2 linked regions of the Homo sapiens genome follow. The protein of the gene in region 2 purifies or fractionates together with the protein of the main gene of each other region. This does not show direct contact. Each region holds a gene or a part of one and is shown on either strand. Other genes may lie near its edges. The genes, in order: MOV10 and APOBEC3G.

Region 1 (3,809 bases), on a different chromosome or scaffold from region 2:
TAACTTCCCACTTCCCCAATCCCCACCCTTTTTTTTGAGACAGAGTCTCACTCTGTCACCCAGGATGGAGTGCAGTGGCACAATCGCACTGCAGCCTCAAGTGCCCAGCTATTTTTCATATTTTTCATAGAGATAGGGTCTTGCAATATTGTCCAGGCTGGTCTTGAACTCCTTGGGCTAGTCTTCCCCAAGTGCTGAGATTACAGGCATGAGCCACTGCACCCGGCCCCTACCTCTCTTTCTGATGGCTGCTTAGAAGCAGGAGCATTTCGGGAGTGGGAAGGAACTAGAATCTGGGGACAACTGCTTGGTGCTGGGGGAATCAGAGTGCAGGCCCCAGGTTTGTGCTCAGACCCCACCTGCTTAATTGCCTCCACTAACGTGACAGTCTTGCCGGTGCCTGGAGGCCCAAAGATGATGTAGGGGGCTGGACGGGTGGTGCCCGTAACAATGTGCCTCATGGCCTGCAGCTGCTCTGGGTTTGACTCCAGACTCCGGTCGTACAGCCTGGCAGAGGGACCAGGAATGTGAACTTGAAGTCATCCAGTGACCCAGAGGCCTCCCTGACTCCACCCCCTGTGCCCACACTCCAAGTGGCTCCAGAAGCTCCCTGCCCACAGTCTCACTTGAGTTTCACATCTGAGGGCAGCAGCGGGACGTCCCGAGGTGCCACAGGAAAGAGCATGGGCCACAGCAGCCAGCGCCCTGTCAGCTCCAGGGCACGGTGCTGGACTCGCAGCGGCTGGCGGTTGAAGGTAAAGTTCACCTTGAAGGTCAGCCCATCCACAAAGCGGCTCAGGAGGCTTTGGGCAGAGAGAGGTGGTAAGAGTTTGTTGGGGCAGGGGAGGTGGGCAATAAAGGGCCAGAACTTTCTCCACCAACCAGTGTCCCAACCCCTCTTTCCAAGACCTCTATGCAAGTTCTCTAGAAGAGGAAGCTGCCGTAGCATCTCAGGGTACCCCTGAGGAAAAGTCTCCTGCTCTGCCCCGGGGTCTCATTTATCTCAGGGAGAAACACTCCTCCTCCCCTGGGGTCAGAAGTCTGTAGACCCTTCCAGCAGCTCAGGGTTCCCCCAACACCCACCTCATGGAAAAGCTCAGCTTGACACGGTCCAATTCCACCTTGTGCACAAAGCCCTTATATGTGATGGGGTCCTCCTGGTGTGTCTCCGAGGACAAAAGGGCAAACAGGTGGTCGCCCCGTAGCACTGAGGGGCGGCTCTCAGTCACTCCAGGAACCTATGGGGTGTGAACACAAGCAAGCTTCTGTCCCAGGGATGGACGCTGGAGGGCCCAGCCCCCAGGTTCCCCAGACCTTTAAGGGACAAGGACTGAGACTGGCCTTCTAACCTAAGACTCAGGGAGTTATGCTATCCCTGCACCCCTCTTTCCTTTCATACCAGCAGGAGTCAGGGGAAGAGGAAGAAGACAAATCCTCCGAAGCTGCCCAGAGATGCCGAGCCCAGGAACCCGGAGCCTCCAGTGCAGCTGCCCTCTTGGCCAGCTCAGTTCCTGCTCTGCCTATAAAAATCCTGTTCATCAGTTAATCGGGTTGCTAAAAAAATAATTAAAAAAAAAAAAAAAAAAAAACGGACCAGGCATGGTGGCTCACGCCTGTAATCCCAGCACTTTGGGAGACTGAGGCAGGCGGATCACTTGAGTCCAGGTGTTGCGAGACCAGCCTGGCCAATGTGGCAAAACCCCATCTCTACAAAAAATACAAAAATTAGCCAGGCGTAGTGGGGCATGTCTGTGGTCCCAGCTACTTGGGAGGATCACTTGAGCCCGGGCGGCGGGGATTAAAGCGAGCCAAGATCATGCCATTGCACTCCAGCCTGAGCACCAGGGTGAGACCCTGTCTCAAAACAAAAACAACAACAACAAAAAACTTGTTCAAAACTCACTTCCTGCAGTAATCTTTCCTTGAACAAACTCACCCTCTAATTCCCACCTGCAATTGTGTGTAGAAATCCATTCTCGTGTGTAATTTTGGGCTTATATGCACACATTGAAAATCCAAGAGCCAGAAAGAGCTCTAAGAATTATCCAGTCCAGCTCTGTGCTTTTCAGATAAGGGAACTAAGGCTTAGAGAAAGCCAGGGACTTACCCAAGGTGGTAGCAAAGCCTGGACTAGAACCCAGATCTTCCCCATTTCCCTGCTCCAACACATCTTTGGGCACAGGATGCCCACCCTGCTTCTTGCGGAGCCCTGGGAACCACTTCAACTTTCCTCTTGTTCTGCCCTGCTGTCAGGAATAGTTCTGCCCACAGCCTCTAGCTTGGCTGGCTTGAGCCCACCCTCCTCACACTCAATCTGAGCCCTGACCTCCAGCGTGAGCAGCCTGGGGTTCTGGTCCACAGGGTCCCAGGTCATGGGCACCGACTCCAGGTCATAGTGCCGGATATCATGCTCCATCTGCAGTTCCTCCAGGTGCAGCAGCAGCCGCAGCTTCACCTCATAGTTCCTCCACTTCAGGGCTGTCTCCAGCTGGGCCCTGGAAATGATGGTTGGGAGGGGTGAGTGGGGGCAGGAACAGGATGGGCCAGACAACCCCTATGCCCAGGAGTATCCACCTTCTCCCACCTGAAGCTCTGGAACTAGCGTCAAAAAGCAGAGAAGACTAGAGGGATACAGAAGTGGATGAGAGTCAGAGGCCCTGAAGAAGGAAGCCTTGGCTCCTGCTTCCTTGGATGCCCCTGCCCCCACCTCACCCGACTTGCATTTGCATGGTGGCTCTTATGGCCAGAACATTCTCCTCCAATCCTCTCATGACTCCCACCCTCACCTCATTCAAATGTCCTTCTCTGTTCAAACATCACTACCTCAAACAGGCCAGGACTAACTGGCCTTCTGCAAAGCAGCACCAACCCATTCCCTAACCCTGCTTTAGTTTCAGTATAGTTCTGTTCATCTTTTTTAGAGACAAGATCTTGCTCTGTCACCCATGCTGGAGTGCAGTGGCATGATCTGGGCTCACTCACTGTGTCCTCAACCTCCTGGGCTCAAGAAATTCTCCCACCTCTGCCTCACAAGTAGCTGGGACTACAGACATGTGCCACCACACTTGGCTAATTAAAATTTTTTTTTGTAGAGACAGAATCTCACTATGTTGCCCCAGGCTGGTCTTGAACTCTTGGGCTTAAATGATCCACCTGCCTCGGCCTCCCAAAGTGCTGAGATTACAGGCATGAGCCACTTACACCTGACCTGTTTAGTTCTTCACAGCACTCATCACTCCATGAAATTGTAACAAAAATGCTCATTGTCCCCCATTAAAATGAGCCAGGCCTTCATTTGACTGGTTCACCTTGAATGGTGCTTGGTGTATGGTGCGTGCTCAGTAAGGGAATGAATGAATACAGCCTGGGAGGCTGAGGACGGAGGTGCCAGGGCAATGCAAAGAAGCCAGTAGGTAAAAGACGGGAGAGTGCGGGGTGCAGAGGGATGGTACTTACTTGATCTCTGCGATCTCCTTAGGGGCAGTGAAGATACTTGTTCCCTGAAGAAGCATGGGGAGCAGCTGCCTGAGGCGGGGAGGTGGGTAGTATGTCCCCAGCGCCATACTTAACTCCAGGTCATAGCCCTTAGCGCTGCAGAATCGAGGGAAGAAAACACAGAAAACCCCTCACCCTCCAACACTCTGAGAACGCCCCTCTGGGGTGGATGCACAAAGCCCTCCTGCAATCCTACTGCTGAAGGGAAGTCAGCAGCCTCGCTCCAAGGGTGGACTACTCTCATTTTTGGAACATGCGATACTTGGAAACCTTTAAAACTATTATCTAAGTAATAAATGATCACTAGAGAAAAA
Region 2 (3,809 bases):
GTGGGACAGACCAGGAGGGCTCTTACTCCTCTGGGCTTTTCCCCCACTTTCCAGACACTCGATGGATCCACCCACATTCACTTTCAACTTTAACAATGAACCTTGGGTCAGAGGACGGCATGAGACTTACCTGTGTTATGAGGTGGAGCGCATGCACAATGACACCTGGGTCCTGCTGAACCAGCGCAGGGGCTTTCTATGCAACCAGGTGACCAACCCAGCCACCCGCATCCAGGCAGGGCCCTCCCAACCCAGGGACACCCATGGGCAGAAGGTTCTGGGTGGTACCTGTGGTGTCCTGCAGAGTGTCTGTCACCTGTGCTTCCTGTAGCTGCTGCTGCTTGGCCCTGGGGTTGGGGGAGACTTCGGCTTCAGTGACTCTCCAGGATTGGTGGCTTCCAGCCCCACACGCCTAACCAGCCACATGTCTCAGGGGCTAACACCACTAGTCCAGAGTCACCCCCAGGTCCAGGTCTCAGCCGTCCCCACTCCTGCTGTGCTCTGAGAGGGTCAGGGCAGAGGAAAAGGGTCTGCACCAGGGCCAAGTGGGATCAAAGAAAAAGCGCTTCCGGCCGGGCACGGTGGCTCATGCCTGTAATCCCAGCACTTTGGGAGGCCGAGGCTGGCGATCACAAGGTCAGGAGATCAAGACCATCCTGGCTAACACGGTGAAACCCCATCTCTATTAAAAATACAAAAAATTAGCCAGGTGTGGTGGCAGGCGCCTGTAGTCCCAGCTATTCAGGAGACTGAGGCAGGAGAATGGCATGAACCTGGGAGGCAGAGCTTGCAGTGAGCCAAGATCGTGCCACTGCACTCCACCTGGGCAACAGAGCGAGACTCCGTCTCAAGAAAAAAAAAAAAAGTGCTTCCTGAGGACCCTCCCAGGATCCCCTCACAGACACAGCTCCCACCAGGAATGATTCAGAACTGTGGGATTTGAGGATCAGGGCCTACCTGACCTCACAAGGCCAGGATTCCCCAGTGCCTGCTCCTGGGCTTCATCCTGCGGGAAAAGAGACTGAGGCAGGAGAGGCCGACCAGGGATTCTGTCCTGACCAGGATGGAGCCCACAGCAAGGCCAGAACAGGCCCCAAGTCAGGATGCAGGGATGGCCAGCATTTGAAGAAGAGCTGGGCCAGGCCAGGCCGAGGGGCCCTGAGCCCGAGGGACGTTCTTCCCTCGCCCTTGCCCAGCACAGCCCCTGGCTGGAGAGGCCAAATTCTGCTTGGCTCTGGTGCTGGAAACGGGGTTCCTCTGGGCTCTATGAGCTTAATATGGGCCCTGCTGGGCCCACACACACTGCTTGGAAGCTACTTTCAAAGGCACCGGTCCCCATCACTGTCTAACCAGTGGGATGGGACTCCCCCAGGAATGACCCACAGCCCCTTCTCAGCACAAATCGTGTCATCCATTCTACCCCGAGTCCTCTCTGCACTGGACTCCTGGGCTTGACTAGTTCCCAGTCGAAATTTGGACAAAACACCATCATTCCTTGGGCTCAACAAGGACAATCACCCCATGACTGGGGCCCTTCCCAATGTGGGGTTAGTCCTGCTGGGGGCCCCTCATCCCCACTTCTCCCTGCAAAGGGAGCCCTCTGGCCTCAGTCTATGTCACTCGTGGGCTTAATACAGGGTAAAGCACAATGTGGAAGCTTCTAGAATTATAGGTCACAGAAGGGGTGGGGCAAGGGGAATTGACGGGTAGACAGGTCAGCCTCCCCATGAGGGAAGCACACGCAGCTCAGTGGCATCTGTCCTCCCTCCCCCAGCTCTACAGCCCCTCCCTGCAGGCCTGGGGCGGAGTGAGGGTCCTGAAGGCACTGACCTCATGTGCAGAATGAGAGGATGCTCCAAATACTCAGTATCAGAGAAATCTCATCGTAATGGAAAATTAAATTATTTAATAGATTATTGTAAAAATCCGGTCAGGTGTGGTGGCTCATGCCTGTAGTCTCAGCACTTTGGGAGGCTGAGGCGGGCAGATCACTTGAGGTCAGGAGTTCAAGACAAGCCTGGCCAATATGGTGAAACCCCGTCTCTACTGAAAATACAAAGATTAGCCAGGCGTGGTGGTGCATGCCTGCAGTCCCAGTTACTGGGGAGGCTGAGACACCAGAATCGCTTGAACCCGGGAGGTGGAGGTTGCAGTGAGCCAAGATGGCGCCACTGCACTCCAGCCTGAGTGACAGAACCAGACTCTGTCTCAAAGAAAAGAAAGGAAAAGAAAAGAAAAGTCATCTTGATAACTGGGGTTTGGTGCCCCCGTCTAATTTTGTGCTGGAGGCTGCCCCGCACCCACCCTGATCCAGGCTGTCCCTCCTGACTCACTAAAAATTCCCTCGGCCGGGCGCTGTGGCTCATGCCTGTAATCCCAGCACTTTGGGAGGCTGAGGAGGGCAGATCACCTGAGGTTGGGAGTTTGAGACCAGCCTGAACCACATGGAGAAACCCCTTTTCTACTAGAAATACAAAATTAGCCTGGTGTGGTGGTGCATGCCTGTAATCCTAGCTACTTGTACACTCCAGCCTGGGCAACAAGAGTGAAACTCTGTCTCAAAAAAAAAAAAGATTACCTCATGGCTTGCTTTCTTTTCTAGGCTCCACATAAACACGGTTTCCTTGAAGGCCGCCATGCAGAGCTGTGCTTCCTGGACGTGATTCCCTTTTGGAAGCTGGACCTGGACCAGGACTACAGGGTTACCTGCTTCACCTCCTGGAGCCCCTGCTTCAGCTGTGCCCAGGAAATGGCTAAATTCATTTCAAAAAACAAACACGTGAGCCTGTGCATCTTCACTGCCCGCATCTATGATGATCAAGGAAGATGTCAGGAGGGGCTGCGCACCCTGGCCGAGGCTGGGGCCAAAATTTCAATAATGACATACAGTGGTGAGAATGGAAGCCTGGAGTAGGATGGGGTCAGCCAGGGCAGGAGAGGGCCCCGGGAAGTTACTAGAAAGTGGGGAGGGTCGGCATCCCTGTGGGAAAGGCCTTGATCCTCTGCCTGCAGAGGCGATGGCTGCACTCTGGACCTGACTTTGGGGTCGACGGGAAGAGAGAGGCCAGGCCAGGAGATGTGGACCTGGGGAGGGCGGGGAGGGTGGCTGGAAGTGGAAGCAGAACTTGGGGCTTCCAGAAAAAATGAGAACTGGGCTGGCCCAGATTCCAATAGGAAAGAAGTGCCTGATGAAGGAGCTAAGTCCCTAGGGGAGGGAGAGGGAAAGGAGGGACTGAAACCAGGATGTGGGAAGTCTGTCTTGAGAGTCATGGGCCTTTGGTGCCACCACGATCCCACAGCGGGAGTGTGACTTATCTCCCCTGTCCCTTTTCAGAATTTAAGCACTGCTGGGACACCTTTGTGGACCACCAGGGATGTCCCTTCCAGCCCTGGGATGGACTAGATGAGCACAGCCAAGACCTGAGTGGGAGGCTGCGGGCCATTCTCCAGGTGAGGGCTTCTTCCCTCTGCCCAGTGCCCCATCGGCCTCCCCCTCCTCCCCTCTCCCCTGCGCCGTGCCTTCCCCTCTGCTCAGAGCCTCCTCTGGGTTCCCTGCTCCCCCAGGGCACCTGTCTCTGTCCCTCCCTTTCCTTCTCACAGCCTCCCTTTCTCTCCCACCTCCCACATCCCTCCCTCCTCTCCGATCATTGTCACTGTCCCCAGGCCTCCACCATATGCCTACTTTCCACTCGCTCACCCTTTGCTCCATTCAACCTCCCTGCTCTTCCAGAATCAGGAAAACTGAAGGATGGGCCTCAGTCTCTAAGGAAGGCAGAGACCTGGGTTGAGCCTCAGAATAAAAGATCTTC

The links.
Region 1: the proteins of APOBEC3G (region 2) and MOV10 purify together in Homo sapiens (affinity purification with western blotting, with the first as the bait; one study listed by BioGRID). This does not show direct contact.

The regions. Positions count from the first base shown.
Region 1 is NC_000001.11:112,691,447-112,695,255, reverse strand, and holds part of MOV10 (helicase MOV-10), read right to left. Parts: intron 3,592-3,809; coding exon 3,457-3,591; intron 2,496-3,456; coding exon 2,327-2,495; intron 1,239-2,326; coding exon 1,084-1,238; intron 804-1,083; coding exon 627-803; intron 508-626; coding exon 360-507; intron 1-359.
Region 2 is NC_000022.11:39,083,677-39,087,485, forward strand, and holds part of APOBEC3G (DNA dC->dU-editing enzyme APOBEC-3G), read left to right. Parts: intron 1-54; coding exon 55-208; intron 209-2,602; coding exon 2,603-2,891; intron 2,892-3,334; coding exon 3,335-3,450; intron 3,451-3,730; coding exon 3,731-3,745; 3' UTR 3,746-3,809.